4 linked regions of the Homo sapiens genome follow. The protein of the gene in region 1 purifies or fractionates together with the protein of each later gene. This does not show direct contact. Each region holds a gene or a part of one and is shown in the gene's direction. Other genes may lie near its edges. The genes, in order: C2CD2, VPS13C, EPB41 and ZNG1C.

Evidence for each region.
Region 2: the proteins of C2CD2 (region 1) and VPS13C purify together in Homo sapiens (affinity purification with mass spectrometry; one large-scale study listed by BioGRID and IntAct). This does not show direct contact.
Region 3: the proteins of C2CD2 (region 1) and EPB41 purify together in Homo sapiens (affinity purification with mass spectrometry; one large-scale study listed by BioGRID and IntAct). This does not show direct contact.
Region 4: the proteins of C2CD2 (region 1) and ZNG1C purify together in Homo sapiens (affinity purification with mass spectrometry; one large-scale study listed by BioGRID and IntAct). This does not show direct contact.

The regions. Positions count from the first base shown.
Region 1 is NC_000021.9:41,901,496-41,905,919, reverse strand, and holds part of C2CD2 (C2 domain-containing protein 2), read left to right. Parts: intron 1-82; coding exon 83-196; intron 197-4,170; coding exon 4,171-4,298; intron 4,299-4,424.
Region 2 is NC_000015.10:61,920,808-61,925,231, reverse strand, and holds part of VPS13C (intermembrane lipid transfer protein VPS13C), read left to right. Parts: intron 1-2,469; coding exon 2,470-2,835; intron 2,836-3,198; coding exon 3,199-3,285; intron 3,286-4,424. UniProt on the Homo sapiens protein: Mediates the transfer of lipids between membranes at organelle contact sites. Necessary for proper mitochondrial function and maintenance of mitochondrial transmembrane potential.
Region 3 is NC_000001.11:28,990,348-28,994,771, forward strand, and holds part of EPB41 (protein 4.1), read left to right. Parts: intron 1-2,982; coding exon 2,983-3,195; intron 3,196-4,424. UniProt on the Homo sapiens protein: Protein 4.1 is a major structural element of the erythrocyte membrane skeleton. It plays a key role in regulating membrane physical properties of mechanical stability and deformability by stabilizing spectrin-actin interaction. Recruits DLG1 to membranes.
Region 4 is NC_000009.12:68,248,211-68,252,634, forward strand, and holds part of ZNG1C (zinc-regulated GTPase metalloprotein activator 1C), read left to right. Parts: intron 1-595; coding exon 596-687; intron 688-4,424.

The DNA.
Region 1 (4,424 bases):
AGGGCTGTCCTTTCACTTTTCGGTAACTGTTGATCCAGTCAGCCACGGGGCCGCTTTTGTAATCAGGATCTTCCTCTGGCAGATTCTCCGGTGAAGACTCCCATCAAGGTGAAGGTGATCGAGAAGGACATCTCTGTCCAGGCCATCGCCTGCCGCAGCGCCCCCGTCAGCAAAACACTCTCTTCTTCAGACACAGGTAACTGAGACACGCCCACGTCGCTCTCCCTCTTAGCACCTTTGGGCCTTTTGGGCTGTTCTGATATGAAGTATTTTCCTTTCAGAATTTGGAAAAAGTTGTTTTGGGCCTGGTGTGGTGGCTCACACCCGTAATCTCAGCACTTTGGGAGGCTGAGGCGGGTGGATCACTTGAGGTCAGGAATTTGAGACCAGCCTGGCCAACATGGCAAAACCCCATCTCTACTAAAAATACAAAAATTAGCTGGGCGTGGTGGCGCATGCCAGTAATCCCAGCTACTCAAGAGGCTTAGGCAGGAGAATCGCTTGAACCTGGGAGGCAGAGGTTGCAGTGAGCCGAGATTGCACCACTGCACTCCAACCTGGGTGACAGAGCGAGACCCTGTCTCTTAAAAAAAAAAAAAAAAAAAAAAAGTTTTGATTTGCTTTTGTTTTGTTAATGAGTGATGAGTGAAGGAGAGGGAGAAAAGGGAACTCCAAATTGATCAGAGACCAGGAGCGGCATTCATATTCCTGCTACATTTTAGGGAATGCTTTAACAAAATAAAAAGCCAACTGAGACTTTACATTTTAAATTTTCTGTTCATTTTTCTCTTGCACAACACGCTAGCTACATTAATAGCAAATAAGTAGGACTCAGGACATCGTCCTCACCGTCACTTTAATTTTATTCACCACTTTCTGCTTACACCAGCTTAGTAGAAGTAGTTTTCCCTTCCACTAGGAAATGGTCACTACGAATAGGAAATGCAAATTCCCTATTTTATGGTCAGTTTCAGGTAATAGACTTTTTGAAGAGATGTCTTACTGACTCATTAAATCACTGCGCAATCTAAATTTGGGGATTAACTTTCTCCCTTTGCCTCCTCGTGACCTGCTCTCAGGGGCAATGGATGCTTCCTTCTTGCTTAGCTCTCCCACATTCGCTGAGTCCTGTGTCTGACCTTGCCCAGGTCAACAACTGGGCAAGGTGGGGCAGTCAGGGGAGTGGAAAGTTCTCACTGGAGGGGCACTGTCTTAACATGGTGTTGGATTCTCAGCCTGGTGAAAGTTCATAACTGCCTCCTCCTCTTGTGGGAGGTTTTATGGTTTTTTGGATACTACCCCGCTGGGTCCCCCACCTGCAGTTCTGGGACGCAGGCCCTGCCCCTCCTTTCGTTACCAGAAAAGGATCTTGATCTAGACCCCAAGAGAGGGTTCTTGGATCTGGTGCAAGAAAGAATTCGGGGCGAGTCCACAGAGTAAATTGAAAACAAGTTATTAAGAAAGTAAAGGAATAAAAGAATGGCTACTCTGTAGGCAGAGAACCCGTACGGGCTGCTGGTTGGCTCTTTTTCTGGTTCTTTCTTGATCATATGTTAAACAAGTGGTGGATTATTCACGAGTTTTCTACGAGGGGCGGCGATTTCTCAGAACTGAGCATTCCTCCCCTTTTCAGACCACGTAGGGTAACTTCTTGCCTTTGCCATGGCAGTTGCAAACTGTCATGGTGCTGGTGGGAGTGTCTTTTAGCATGCTAATGCGTTATCCTCAGTGTATCATCGGCAGTGAGGACAGCCAGAGGTCACTCTCATTGCCGTCTTGGTTTTGGTAGGTTGTGGCCGGCTTCTTTACCACATCCTGTTTTATCAGCAGGGTCCTTGTGACCTGTGTCTTGTGCCGACCTCCTAGCTCACCCTGTGAGTAAGGGCACCTCACCTCCTGGGAGTGCAGCCCAGGGGATCCCAGCCTCATTTTGCCCAGCCCTTATTTGAGCTGGAGCCGCTCTGGTACTAATGCCGCTGATGCTTTTGCCGCTGCCCCTGATGCCCCTTCCTCAGTTTCTTCCCCTGGCAGTGCCCCCACTGCCCATGCTGCGGGGTCCTGTCACGTGGGCAGGATCCCTCTTAAAAGACCTAGGCTGATGTTCCCACTGTGGGTTCTGATGCATGGTCCATGGAGCCGGCCCCCAGGCTCACCTGCCACGGTGCAGGCTGCACCTGGCACCTGGACCGGGCTCTCGGGGGACTGAACAGAAGCACTGGGCCTGGCGTGAGGAGGACGTGCTCCCGACACGTCTCCCTTGGTGGCTTTGGGAATTACAGCACAGCTTTCTCCTAAGGAGTCCTCCCCAACTCCTTTCTCCAGCACTTCTCTCTTCTCAGTGTGGGTCAGTGGCTAAACAAAAATCTGTTCCTCTACTCACAACACTCCTGACGCCAAATGTGTAGATTTTCTATGGCAAGCAATTTTCTGTTTCTCTGCAGACACCAACTGGGTGTCCTACAATTTAATTCAATTCTGGCATTACCTGGAGTTAGCTCAGATCCCACAGGTGAAAGGCTCAGCCCCACAAAACCACCCTTCCACTTTAGATGTCAGGTGCAAATAGTGGGTCCCCAGGTTACCACACTTTTGTCCCACTTGGCTACAAATTGGGGTTTCCATGACACACTCCTCGGGTTCCGTAATTTGCTATAATGGCTCACAGAACTCAGAGAAACACTTTACTTGGGTTTACCAGTTTATTATCACACAAATGCACAGCCAGATGAAGGGGCTCAGGGCACAGTCTGGGAGGGTCCTGAGTGTGGGAGCTTTGATCTCCGTGGAGTCGCCCCTTTCCCAGTACGTGCATGCGTTGGTTCACAACCTGGACGCTCCCTGAGCCCTGTCATTTAGGGGGTTTATGGTGCTTCTATAAGTAGGTATGTAGGCATGATTGATTCACTTATTGGCCTTTGGTGATTTGAGCTCAATCTCTAGCCCCTTTCCCTTCCCCACAGGCGAGAGGAGGGCAGAAAGTTCCAGCCTTCTAACCACAGGGTTGGTGCCTCTGACATCCAGTGCCCGTCCTCATTAGCATTCACTCGGATGGGGTGCAGGGGCTTATTAGGAATGAGAAGGATGCCCCAGCTCCGTGGCTCTGGAATTCAAAGGATTTTTTTTTTTGTTCTCTGTGCCAGGAACCAGGGAGGAAGACCAAGTATCTATTTATTATTCCCCAGTGTCACTGTTGTCACCGGTTCTTGGCCTCTGTGGTCTTATCTTGACTCCCTTTGGAAATGCAGCATCTGTAAGCCTCAGGCCATGGCCAAAACCGAGACAGAAGTTCCTTTTACCATCCTGCTACTTTAATAGCTTTGCCATTTTGACTTTACCTGAGCAGGAAAGTGTAAGTTACAAGCATCAGCTCTGAGTCAGAGAGACCTGCTGGTCATCTCAGCTCTGGGGCCTCCTGGCTGCTGGACATACTCCTCAATGGTCAAATGGGATAAAAGGAAGGACCTGCTCATGGGGTGTGGAATAGGAGTAAATGAGAGAATGTGCACAGAGCTCTGTCTCTGAACAGCACCTGGTTTGCCGTAAGCATTCTATTGATGTTGGCTGGTGTGTGTTGTTATTAACCTGGGGAAGGAGGTGCTTTTATTAACTGGCCCTTCATAGCTCTAGTTACTATTCTATGTATTTAGGCACTCTTGGGAGGGAAAAGGAGTCACTACCTTGCCTTTCAAAGTTCAAAATCTTCCAAAGGGTTAGATATTTTTTTTTTGTTGTTTGCTTGCTTTTGCCATTTTCCATCAACTCTATTCAGGTATAACTTAAATAAATAAAATCGGTGAATCTTAAGCAGACACTTCAGTGAGTATCTTGTAACCACCCAGGGAATCAAGCTGTAGACCAGGGGTCAGCAAACAGCAAACTATGGCCCATAGGAAAAATCTGGCCCGTCACTTGTTTTTGTAAATAAAGTTTTACTGAAACCCAGCCATGCTCATTTATTTACCTGTGGTCTCTAGCTGGTTTCACTCTATAAAAGCTGCATTGAGAAGTTGTTGCAGAGACCACCAACAAAGCCTAAACAATTGACCCTTTGGCCCCTTTTAGAAAATATCTGCTAACCATTGCTTATCGACCATTTCCATTATCCCTGGAAGTTCCCATGGAAGTCTTTAATTTTTGCTGATGAACTTAACACTGCCTTCCTTCTGGTAGAATTGTTGGTGTTGAATGGTTCGGATCCAGTGGCTGAAGTGGCCATTCGACAGCTCAGTGAATCTTCAAAGCTGAAACTCAAGTCGCCACGGAAGAAAAGCACTATTATCATATCAGGGATCTCCAAGGTACCATCGTGGTGGCTGGGGAGGTGTTCATCTGGTCATCTGTCAGTGACCTGCTGCTCCTCTGCCCTTTGAAGAAGTTAGCCCAAGCACTTGGTTAACGTCCAGAGAGTTCCATTTACAAATGTC
Region 2 (4,424 bases), on another chromosome or scaffold:
AGGGTAGTTTTTCTCTATTCTATTTGCATGCGTGTGTTGTGGGGGTTGAGTTGGAGGAGGGAAGAGATATGGGGTGGGAAGAGAAGGGAAGAAGGGATGGAGAGAAGAGGTTGTTATTACTTTATTTGTAATAAGTTCTTTTTAGGCTTTTATTTGATGTATAAGTTGATTGAATTTAATAACTATATGATTTGGCTTCAAATATTTATAATGACAGATGTACACTAGAAATAATTATTGGAGTTTACTGTTTTATTCACTACATTTAAAGCATTGAAAAACAATTATTGTTTTCCAATGGCGTTCAGGTTCTTTAAGTATACCTCGTGCCCAGTCACGAATAGAAGATATAGAATACTTTCTGCAATCTATTTCTCTGTTTGCACAAAGGATACAAAAATGAGTCCTTTTTTGGTTAATTGGTTAATGCCAATAATGGTAGTAGCTTTACTTATATAGGTCCGTGACCAACAGTGATTGAACTAAGGCTCAAACTCATTTCATTTGAAGTACCATGTAAATATCAATTTAGTTTTTTCTCAATATTTTAAAATACTGGATAGTCTTAGAATGTATATTGTTAATGGATTTACTTTTAAAAATATATAAAGTAGTAAATGAGGGAAAAACTCCTCGAATTTGCATATTTTAAAGCACTAGGTTAGGTGCTGGTGAGACTTTACATTCTTTGTGTATAAATTTATGATTGATTCAAAAAACGTTTTTGAGCTTTTACTGTGTATTAAAAAAATGTCCTTTACAAGGCATTGGGGATATGTAGCCCCTGCTGTCAAAAAACTTAATGACATATGCGGGAGAAAGAAAGAAATCAGTGATTACAGCTTTCAGTGCTAGAGGCATGGCCAAGATGCAGTTGGGAGCACAGGCATGGGGCCTTTAATTCAGACCAGGACATCAGGGAAAGCTGTGTAGAAGCAGGACTATTTGATTTGAGTTTTGAAGGGAGATTAAATAGATGGGGAGCATGGAAAGGTTTATCCAGACAGAACTGATAATATGCACAAAGGCAGAGGTGTGAAAAAATCCTTTAAGATTTAGAGGGGTGGCCGGGCGCGGTGGCCTCACGCCTGTAATCCCAGCACTTTGGGAGGCCGAGGCGGGCGGATCACGAGGTCAGGAGATCGAGACCATCCCGGCTAAAACGGTGAAACCCCGTCTCTACTAAAAAATACAAAAAATTAGCCGGGCGTAGTGGCGGGCGCCTGTAGTCCCAGCTACTTGGGAGGCTGAGGCAGGAGAATGGCGTGAACCCGGGAGGCGGAGCTTGCAGTGAGCCGAGATCCCGCCACTGCACTCCAGCCTGGGCGACAGAGCGAGACTCCGTCTCAAAAAAAAAAAAAAAAAAAAAAGATTTAGAGGGGTGGTCACATATGGCTGGAGAGAATGGTGTGGTGGCGTTGTAAGACTGGAAGCATTAATTATAAGTGACATTAATAAGACACGGAAAAAAAGTTGACAAGTAAGTTAGGAAAACAATACATACTAGATCCTGCTTTTGATGATATAATTATATCCCTTTACATTTTAAGTAAGGATTGTGAGAAGTGAACAATAAAGGAATACAGTTAACTTATTTAACCTAGTATTTCTCAAACTTTGGGAGAATCCTGGCTAGCTGGTTGAATAGGCACTAGGCCACAAAGAGCTCTGCACATTAAGTTAAAGAGAGTTTCAATTTTATCTTGTGGGATAAAAAAATTATGGGAAGTTGATGAAGATTTTAAACATAAGAATGTCATACTCAGATTTGGTTTGTAGAAAAATTATGCTGGTGGCAGTGTGGAGTGTAGGCTGAGAGGGCGTTGGCCGTAGAAGATGTCATCAGTGTAGAACTAAGGCACAGTAATAGGAAGTGAGGGAAGTGAGCAAAGAAAGGCACTGTCCAAAGATAATAAGAGGTAGGATTTATAGATCTTGGGGTAAGTCAAAGGAGAGCTGTGATTTTGAGTCTTCCAGCTTTAATAAGGCAAATGTATATCTTTTTCTTCCTTTTTTTTTTTTTCAGAAGATCTTGTTGCATACCGATATTTATGTGTATCTTGACAAGGATCACACACTTTGGCTTAGTTAATGTAGCTGTTTTTAAAATGAAGAATTTGTTTACATTGCTATACTTGTCTATTCACATAACACTGTTTTGCTCTGAATTGATCAGCTTAACTTTAGATTTTGACTACTGACATATAACATTAGTTATTTAATTCCAGATAACCTGAGTAGAAGTCAGTGTTGCATGATTACTTGGCTTGACACATAATTTTGTGTTCTCTCTTGTTTTTCTTGGTTACGAATTTATTCAAAATTTAAATTAGTTACTTTAATTTAAAATTAAAATTTAATTTAAAAATGTCACTTATAATTAATGTATGTCACTTAAAATCATGTATGTATATATTCTCATCTGGGAAAGAATTTATTATAAATATTTTTCTGCTTTCTTTTTTAAAGATTTCACCCATAATTCTTAATACTGTGTTGACAATCATGGCTGCATTGTCTCCAAAAACAAAAGAAGATGGATCCAAAGATACGTCTAAGGAAATGGAAAATCTTTGGGGTATCAAATCGATTAATGATTATAACACTTGGTTTCTTGGTGTTGACACGGCAACAGAAATAACGGAAAGCTTCAAAGGCATTGAACATTCACTGATAGAGGAAAATTGTGGTGTTGTTGTAGAATCCATTCAAGTTACCTTAGAATGTGGCCTTGGACATCGAACTGTACCTTTATTATTGGCAGAGTCTAAGTTTTCAGGAAATATTAAAAATTGGACTTCTCTAATGGCTGCTGTTGCTGACGTGACACTACAGGTATGGCCACATCACTTAATACCTTCAGAGACTTCTTGAAAGTGCGATTTTGGAATTAAGATATACACTTTTCTTGTTTGTGCATGGCCACTATGAGTACATATGTGAATAGATAGTGTGTTCTGACATTTAATTTGTCGATGTATTGTTTTTTGATAATTATTTTTTAAAGATTGATTTGCTAAATAATTTATGACAATAGAGTAAGAGAGTAAAGGAAAATACACTCTATATATTGTTAGATGGGTTTTGAAAATGGCTAATGATATATAACATTGATTACTTAATAATTTCCCTATTGGTTACAGAAATATGTAATTAAAGCCAAAGGACTGTCTTATAATTTTGTGTGTATCTTTCCAGGTGCACTATTACAATGAGATCCATGCTGTCTGGGAGCCACTGATTGAGAGAGTGGAGGGGAAGAGACAATGGAATTTAAGGCTTGATGTAAGGAAATCTTAAAATATCTTTGGATAGAATGATACTATGCATATTCATTCATAGTTTTTATTTCAGTGATTCTTAAGATGTGGTCTAGGATCCTTGAAGCCCTTTTAAGGGCTCTGTCCATGAGGTCAGAACTCTTTTCATATGTCATTTTCATTCTCATTCTCTCACGAGTGTATAGTGGAGTTTTCCAGAGACTAATGAAGGTGATACTGCAACAGATTGAATGCAGAACAGAAACGAGAATTTATCTGTCTTCCCTTAAGGCAGGCAGTAAAGAGATATATGTGTATGTTCCTCTTCTCACTGTATTTTTAAAATAGTTATTTTTGATTAAAAATGTTATTTATATTAGCATGTAATTTTTATTTTTAAATGAATTTTTAATTTTTTTTCAGTTTTAATTGTTAATAGAGTACATATTGGTAGATAAAACATAAATGAAGCTCTTTAGTATACTCAGTGATTTTTAAGGGTGAGACCAGAATATTTGAGAATTGTTAATGAACTCTTGTGTGTTATCTTTTTATGTTGTTTTTTGAGAACACCTCAGAAACCTAGATACTGAAGCACATTTTTCTTGATTAAAAGGAACTTGAGTCATATATTGTTAAGAAATTGTCGTAGCATACTTCTTTGGGGCAGCCTTACTAAGGAGTCAGGCACTGAAACTGACTCCACATATTCTTTTGTTAAAGATGAGTCACTTAACCTGTGTTCCAATTTCCTCTCAATAAAGAAGTAATATTTTTCTGACCTGCCTTTCTCTGGCATAGGGAGGCTAACAAAGAATGTTTTACAAGGCTTTTGAAATACTACTAGAACAGAAGCTGATGGAATCTGATGGCTAGTTAAGTGTTTATTATATTAATATTACTTATTTGAAGGTGTTATTGGTTTAAAAAATAGAAGGAGAGAAACATTTCCAGGTGGCACCTCTAATAGGGATCAGTTTAGACTTCAGGGTCCTCTTAGATTGCTCGTCAACACATAATCACCAGTTGGGTGACACTGAATAAATAGCTATGCTCTGAGGAATGCATAAGAGACAAATATTGTAGCTGGCTTTGAGTAATTTCATGGCGTAATTCTAAACTTTTCCCCATGCTTGGACTATACCCTGAAAGAATGAATGCTGA
Region 3 (4,424 bases), on another chromosome or scaffold:
CCTCCCTCCCTTCCTCTCTTCCTCTGCCTCCCTCCTTTCCCCTCCCTCCCTCCTTCCCCCTCTTTATTTATTTTCTTTTTTTCTTTCTTTCTTGACAGGGTCTCTCTCTGTCACCCAGACTAGAATACAGTGGTGTGATCATGGCTCACTACAGCCTCAACCTCCCGGGCTCAAGCTATCCTCCCATCTCAGTCTCCTGAGTAGTTGGGACTACAGGTGCATGCCACATGCCCAGCTAATTTTTAAATTTTTTGGTAGAGACGGTCTTGCTTTGTTGCCTAGGCTGGTCTTGAACTCCTGAACTCGAGCAATCCTTCTGCCTCAGCCTTCCAGAATGCTGGGATTACAGGCATGACCACTGTGCCTGGCCTCAAGGGGTTTTTAACTGCTTTTTTCTCCTTCAGCTTTATATAGGGGAAAATCCATATCTTGTTTTAGTTAACATTTGAATCAGAACTTGTCTGCATTGTCTAAAGTTCATAGATTCGTACTCAAGTTGACACAGATGATGGACAGTTAATTTTAGATTTAACTAAAATCTCATTCATTAAGATTTAATTCCGAATTGAAATAAATTGTCCGTAGGTTATTTGTCTTCATGTGGAGAAAAAGAAACGATATTGTTAGTAAAATTTCAAGGAGATATTATTTAAAAGAACAAACTATTTTAGGCCTTTTGGAAACTAATATTTATAGTCAAAACCTTGTGGATCAGAGTCGTCTGGATAAAGGTTTATTTGCCTAACCATGTTTCTGTATATGTAATAGGATTTTATTTAAATGGTTCTTTTTTATCCAGAATTTTTTAAAAAGCGTGTTTGCTTTATATTATAAATATATAAATATATATTTATATTACATTTAAGTGTATAATATATATAAATATAGGATTGTACCAGTCTTCATCCAGAGTAGCTTGGATTTTTTGGAAGCCTATGTAAATTTTTAATGTTTGTTTATTCATTCAACAAATATTTATTGAAAACCTACCATGTGTGCCAGGCCCTAGGCTGGATATACCTTGGTAAATAAAAACTGCAATATGGTGAAGAGGTTTAAAATCATGGATTTTGGGGCTGAGTGTGGTGGCTCATGCCTGTAAATCCAGCACTCTGGGAGACTGAGGCAGGAGGATCACTAGAGCCCCGGAGTTCGAGACCAACCTGGGCAACATGGAGAAACACCATCTCTACAAAAAAGTAAAAAACTAGCTAGGCATGGTGGCTCTCCTGTAGTCCCAGCTACTTGGGATGTTGAGGTGGGAGGATCACTTGAGTCTGAGAGGTCGAGGCTGCATTGAGCCATGATTATGTCACTGCACTCCAGCCTGGGTGATAGAGTGAGACTCTTGTCTCAAAAAAAAAAAAAAAAAGCAAAAAAAACAAATCGTGGATTCTGAAGCCAGACTGGTATGTGACTTATTAATTGTATGATCCTAGGCAAGTTACTTAATTTCTCTGGCCTGTTTTACAACCCTGCAGGCCAGGTACTATTATCCTCCCTCTATCAAGTGGGGATATAATAATACTACGTGCCTCGCAGGGTAGTTATGAGGATTGAGTTAGTTCACATAAGTAATTTTCTTAGAATAGTGACTGGCCCATTGTAATTGTTGTATAAATGTTTGGTATTATTATTATTATAAAACAGACATGATTTCTACCCTTGTGGACTTTAATAGAGAAGACAAAAAAGTAGCAAATAAAAATAATTATTTATTGTAATAAGTTATAAAGCCACCAGAGTACTGATATGAAAGACAGTAGAGCGGGCATAGATAGATAGGATAGCCAGTGAAGAGACTTCCTGAGGTTGCAGTGAGAGGGTCATGAAAGATCGGAAGGAGTCTTTTAGATTACTTCCAGTATTTAATGCAGGAGTCAAATAATTAATTTCTTTTTCCTAATTGTCAACCATGCATTCTTTTTTTCTTTTAATTGTTTTCCAGCTGTTACACAAGGAAGTAACATATTCTTTTAAAAGAAAATAATTAGTCGGGTTTAGATAAAAATATGTCGGTAGTTTTGTTGTGTTGAAAGTAAAAGTAAAAATGTATGCCGGCCAGGCACGGTTGCTCACGCCTGTAATCCCAACACTTTGGGAGGCCGAGGCGGGCAGATCATGAGGTCAGGAGATCAAAACCATCCTGGCTAACGTGGTGAAACCCCATCTCTACTAAAAGTACAAAAAAATTAGCTGGGCGTGGTGGCGGGCGCCTGTAGTCCCAGCTATTCAGGAGGCCCAGGCAGGAGAATCGCTTGAACCCTGGAGGCGGAGCTTGGAGTAAGCCGAGATCGCGCCACTGCACTCCAGCCTGGGCTACAGAGTGAGACTCCGTCTCAAAAAAAAATGTATACCAAAAATGTTATCCTACTTATCGGTATTATTTGGGGATAATTTAAGATTGCACCAGGAAACTCTTCCTTCATTGACTCTTCTTTGCATTTAACATGATTAATATTGGGTAGAAAGGTGTTAGCTGGTAGTTAAAATTTTTAGCCTACTACATGTTTGCTTAATGATGTGAAATTGGTCCCAAGCATTTCTCTTAGAATTAAAATTAATTTAAAATTTAGAATATGTAACAAGTCACATCTTATTTTGCAGTTTGTAAGGCTACATTGCTAAAATTGAGGAGCATGGGCAGAGACAATAACGTTTTTGTTAAACTTTAATAATACCGTGTAATGGCTTGGTCAGGAAGAATATATAATGCTGAGAGCAATGGATTGGTATCCTCCGGTTTACCTGAGACCTTCATTTATTGATTTGATGGGATTCTACCTGAGAAGTTTTAATAACAAAGTCTTTAGGGCATTTGGGGGATCATACTATTTTTTATAGAAAAATATTTAATATTAATGTCACCTATATTTGTTTTAGTTCATGCTTTTATTGGTAAGATTATTATAGGTAAAAGCATATACAGCATGTTTTGTGAAATGTGTTTATTACTGACTTGGCGATGTCATGGATATGTAGCCTGCTCAGGAAGAACTCAGAGAAGATCCAGATTTTGAAATTAAGGAAGGAGAAGGACTTGAAGAGTGCTCCAAAATAGAAGTAAAAGAAGAAAGCCCTCAATCAAAAGCAGAAACAGAATTAAAAGCTTCCCAAAAACCAATCAGAAAACACAGGAACATGCACTGCAAGGTTTCTTTGTTGGATGACACAGTTTATGAATGTGTTGTGGAGGTGAGTATGTTTTCATTTCCAACAATCAGAACTCTTACAGGTGGTTTCATCTAGAGTTGCGTAAGTGGTGATTTTGCCCACGATAAGACTCACTGTAGTGATTATTTCTTTTTTCTTTTTTTTTTTTTTTTTGAGACAGAGTTTTGCTCTGTCACCCAGGCTGGAGTGCAGTGGCATGATCTTGGCTCACTGTAGCCCCCAACTCCCATGTTCAAGTGATTCTCCTGTCTCAGCCTCCCGAGTAGCTGGGATTACAGCCATGTGCCACCATGCCAGGCTAATTTTTTGTATTTTTAGTAGAGACAGATTTCACCATATTGGTCAGGCTGGTCTTGAAGTCCGGGCCTCAAGTGATCTGCCCACCTCGGCCTCCCAAATTGCTGGGATTACAGGCATGAGCCACTGCGCCCGGCCTTTAATGATTATTTCTGTAGATGGAAGTATTAATGGTGATTTTCTGGAGGTGGGATTATGGGAAGATGATGAGTAAGTCTTTAAGTCCAGTAAATGCCATTTCTTAAAATTTTCTGTTTTCTGAAAGAATAAGTGATTGAATCAGGATTGAAGAAAAATATCAGAGTTATTCAGTTACTCTTTTTGCTCCTTCAGGACAAGTTGACAATTTTTTTTTTGTTTGTTTGTTTTTTGAGACAGAGTCTCTCTCTGTCGTCCAGGCTGGAGTGCAGTGGTACAATCTCGGCTCACTGCAAGCTCTGCCTCCTGGGTTCACGCCATTCTCCTGCCTCAGCCTCCAGAGTAGCTGGGACTACAGGCACCCGCCACCACGCCTGGCTAGTTTTTTGTGTTTTAAGTAGAGACGGGGTTTCACCGTGTTAGCCAGGCTGGTCTCGATCTCCTGACCTCGTGATCTGCCCGCCTCGGCCTCCCAAAGTGCTGGGTTTACAGGCTTGAGCCACCGCGCCCGGCCAGAGCAAGTTGAAATTTTAAAAAAATCTACTAACTATATATTTTTCAAACTGGAACAGTAGTTGTTTATTATGATATGCTTGATATATAAGCAATTGCAATTGTTACTAGTAACAGCTTTTATTGACAAAGTGTGTAATTCACATATATGTGGAACAAACTATTTTATTTATTTATTTATTTATTTATTTATTTATTTATTTATTTGAGACAGGGTCTTGCTCTGTTGCCCAGGTTGAAGTGCAGTGGCGCAGTGACAGCTCACTGCAGCCTCAACCTCCTGGGCTCAGGTGATCCTCCCA
Region 4 (4,424 bases), on another chromosome or scaffold:
TAATTTTGTGTATTCTAGTGAATTAAATCTCTTCGGCATCATTTACTCCCTTAGGTATTTGACTTTGTGTCAAATGTTTTGGCAAGGATAAAATTATAACAGACTTTCTTGAACAACCAAAATGTAATCTATTAAGGATTTTCCTTCACTTTTGATAAAATAAGAAAAAAGGAATTTAAAACCTTGCATCCTAATGTAAAATAGAATTATATGGTGTTTAATATCAGTGTCCCTTTAGCTATTATATTAAACTACTATAGTTAATAAATTTTATCATTATTTTGTATGTTGGTTTTTAAAAATTTCATAAAGCTATAAAAAGATACTTGGTCAGATAAAGTTTCCTCTGCTTTTAATTTTAATAAAGTATTATTATGTATATGATTTCTTTTTACCTATTATATATATGCATCTATTGTTTTCTCACTGGTAAATATGGGACAGACATTTTGTTAGAAGGTTAGAAGTGAGTTAAATTTTCACATTCCTAAGGATACTTTTGTCTCGGGTTGTTGAATACATTTTAAAGTGTTTATAATAATCACTTCAAAATATTTAGGTAATTAACTGTAAATTATGTTTTGGTATTCTCCAGGGACAATGGCCTTAGAGCTATTGAGAATTTGATGCAAAAGAAGGGGAAATTTGATGACATACTGTTAGAGACCACTGGATTAGCAGACCCTGGTAAGAAGTGAGATTATTAATAACCAGAATATAGTTCTGTGATATATTGTAAATAGATGTATTAGAGGAATATCTAAAATGAGTATTAAAGCTTTTGTTAGTATTAAACCAAAAACTTTTTTTGGTTTAAAAGAGGAAAAGTACTCGTTTGTCATTTTCTTTGGCAGTTGAATGAATGATCAGAGTATTTCTTGGTGCTTTTAAGCTGTTAATAGAATTGGAAGTTTTATTGATTGATTTAGGATTATTTGTAAGAACAGAAGTTGTTAAAAATAAGGACATGTAGGAAGAGCAGAGACGTTCTACTTCTAAGTACAGTTGTCCCTTGGCATCCATGGCGTATTAGTTCCAGAACCTCTGAGGATACCAAAATCTATTAATGTTCAAGTCCCTTACATAAAATGGTGTAGTATTTGCCTATAACCTATGCACATCCTCCCATATACTTTAAATCATCTGTAGATTACTTATAATACCTAATACAATGTAAGTGCTGTGTAAGTAGTTATTATACTGCATTGATAAGGTAATCATGACAAGAAACTCTAAACTCTACTATGGAAAGCTACACAGAGTCAACCTGTTTCTCACAATGGGTTTCTGTTACCTTCTTACCAAGCTCTAATTCTTGATAAAGTCTGCTTATTTTCCCCAAATAACTTTTAGATAAAATCTTTATTTTCAGTTTGCATAAAAGTTAGTGCTTATTCTGTGAATCTGACCCATACCATTATTTTCTTTTTGATCTGGGTCTCTGGCATTGGGGCGATTTGTAAAACTATATTAAAGTATTTGGGGGTAATTTACTAAACAGGTCATAGTTGTCCAAAAGAAATATTGAAGTATCCTGAGAGTTCAAATGTGATCAGTGGTTATTGTACTTAAAACAATTACGTAGTAACATCATCCCCATGTTTTCAAAGTAGTATTGAATTAGGCTATTTTGGTCCTTATAGTAGGCATGGGTTTTCATACCTTTCTGATAAATCTGACTGATGATAGGACTTGGACTAATATGTTGGCGTTAAATATTATTTGAATCTGGTAAGAAAGAATATATTGTATGCTTTTATTAGAAATAGCAAATATCAGTTTATTTCATCATAGCCAGTTTTGCCATTTTATAGACAAAAACTTGATACTTTTGAGAGTTTAATTAAACACTATTCAGCTTTTCAGAGGAAGAAAGAAAAACTAAAGATCACAGAGAAAGCTTTTATACAAATTGTAGTTATAAAAAATGTTAATGTTTCTTGCTTCTAACTTTCTTTACAATAAAGATTTTATTGTTTGGGTAAAGATGGAACATTCATTGTAAAAAAATTTAAATACCTAAAAAATACAAAGAAGAAAGTTGAAAAGTAATCATCTCACTATTGTGATATACAAGTAAGGGCTGGGCATGGTGGCTCATGTCTGTAATCCCAGCACTTTGGGAGGCTGAGGCAGGTGGATCCCTTGAGGCCAGGAGTTCAAGACCAGCCTAGCCAACATGGTGAAATCCAGTCTCTACTGAAAATTCAAAAACTAGCCAGGCGTTGTGGCGCACCCCATAATCCCAGCTACTCAGGAGGCTAAGGCATGAGAATCGCTTGAAAGCTGGGAGGCGGAGGTTATGGTGAGCCGAGATCACGCCACTGCACTCCAGCCCAGGCAACAGAGCAAGACTGTATACACACACACGCACATGCACACGCACACACACACACACACATTCATACACACACACACAAGTAGGTAAATTTTATTCCAGGGATCTCTCTATGCCAGTGCTACTTGGTAGTATGTTGAATGGCAGCCTCAGCCTCAGCTGGGAGCTTGTTAGAAATGCAAATTCTTGACCAACCCAGATCTACTGAATCGGAATCTCTAAGGGAGGGGGTCAAGCAAGCTGTTTTTAATAAGCCCTTCAGGTGATTCTTATACTGTACAGCCATACCGCAGGGATATTGTGGGCTTAGTTCCATATCACTGCAGTAAACTGAATATCACAATAGAGTGAGTCACACACATTTTTTTGTTTCCCATTGCATATAAAAGTTATGCGTTTTGGCCGGGTGTGATGTGACAGGCCTGTAGTCCCAGCTACTTGGATCACTTGAGCTCAGGAGTTTGAGGCTGCAGTGAGTCATGATTGCACCACCGCACTCCAGCCTGGATGACAGCATGAGACCCCATTTCTTAAAAAAAAAAAAAAAAAAAAAAAGCTGTGTTTATACTATACTGTAGTCTATAAAATGTGTAATAGAATTGTCTAAAAAACATACATACCTTAATTAAAAATATTTATTGCTAAAAAATGCTAACGATCATCTCAGCTTTCAGCAAGTCATAATCTTTTTGCTGGTAGAGGGTCTTGCCACAATGTTGATGGGTGCTGACCAATCAGGGTAGTAGTTACTGAAGGTTGGGGTGGCTATCGCAATTTCATAAGATAATAATGAAGTTTGCTGCATTAGTTGACTCTCCCTTTCATAAAAGATGTCTCTATAGCACATGATGCTATTTGATAGCATTTTACCCACAGTATGACTTCTTTCAAAATTGGAGTCAGTCCTCTCAAACCCTGCTTTATCAATTAAGCTTCTGTCATATTTTAAATCCTTTGTTGTCATTTTGACAGTGTTCATAGCATCTTCACCAGGAGTAGATTCCATCTCAAGAAACCACGTTCTTTTCCCGTCCATAAGAAACAACTTCTCATTAGTTAAAGTTTTCTTATGAGATTGCAGGAATTGAGTCACATCTTCAGACTCCCCTTCTAATTCTAGTTCTCTTACTGTTTCCACCATATCTGCAGTTATTTCCTCCGTTGAAGTCTGAAATCCCTCAAAGTCATCTGTGAGGGCTGGAATCATCTTTCAAACTCCTATTCATGTTGATACTTTGATCTCCCATGAATCACGAATGTTCTTAATGGCATCTAGAATGATGAATCCTTTCCAGAAGGTTTTCAATTTACTTTGCCTAGATCCATCAGAGGAATCACTATCTATGGTAGCTATAGCCTTATGAAATATATTTCTTAAATAAGACTTAAAAGTCAAAGTTACTCCTTGATCAGTGGGCTGCAGAATGGATGTTGTGTTAGCAGGCATGAAAACAACATTAATCTCCTTGTACATCTCCATCACAGCTCTTGGGTGATCAGGTGTGTTGTCAATGAGCAATAATATTTTGAAGGAATCTTTTTTTTTCTAAGCAGTAGATCTCAATGGTGGGCTTAAAATAAACCATGCTGTAAACAGATGTGCTGTCATCTAGGCTTTATTATTTATAGAAAACAGGCAGAGGAGATTTAGCATAATTCTTAATGGCCCTAGAATTTTCAGGATGGTAAATGATTATTGGCTTCAACTTGAAGTCACCAGCTGCTTTAGCCTCTAACAAGAGAGTCAGCCTGTCCTTTGAATCTTTGAAGCCAGGCATTGACTTCTCTATAGCTATGAAAGTCCTAAATGGCATCTTCTTCCAAAAGGAGGCCATTTCATCTCCATTAAAAATCTGTTGCTGGCCGGGCTCGGTGGCTCATGCCTGTAATCTCAGCACTTTGGGAGGCCGAGATGGGCAGATCACGAGTTCAGGAGTTTAAGACCAGCCTGGCCAACATAGTGAAACCCCATCTCGACTAAAAATACCAAAAATTAGCCTGGCTTGGTGGTGGGAGCCTGTAATCCCAGTTACTTGGGAGGCTGAGGCAGGAGAATGGCTTGAACCCGGGAGGCGGAGGTGGCAGT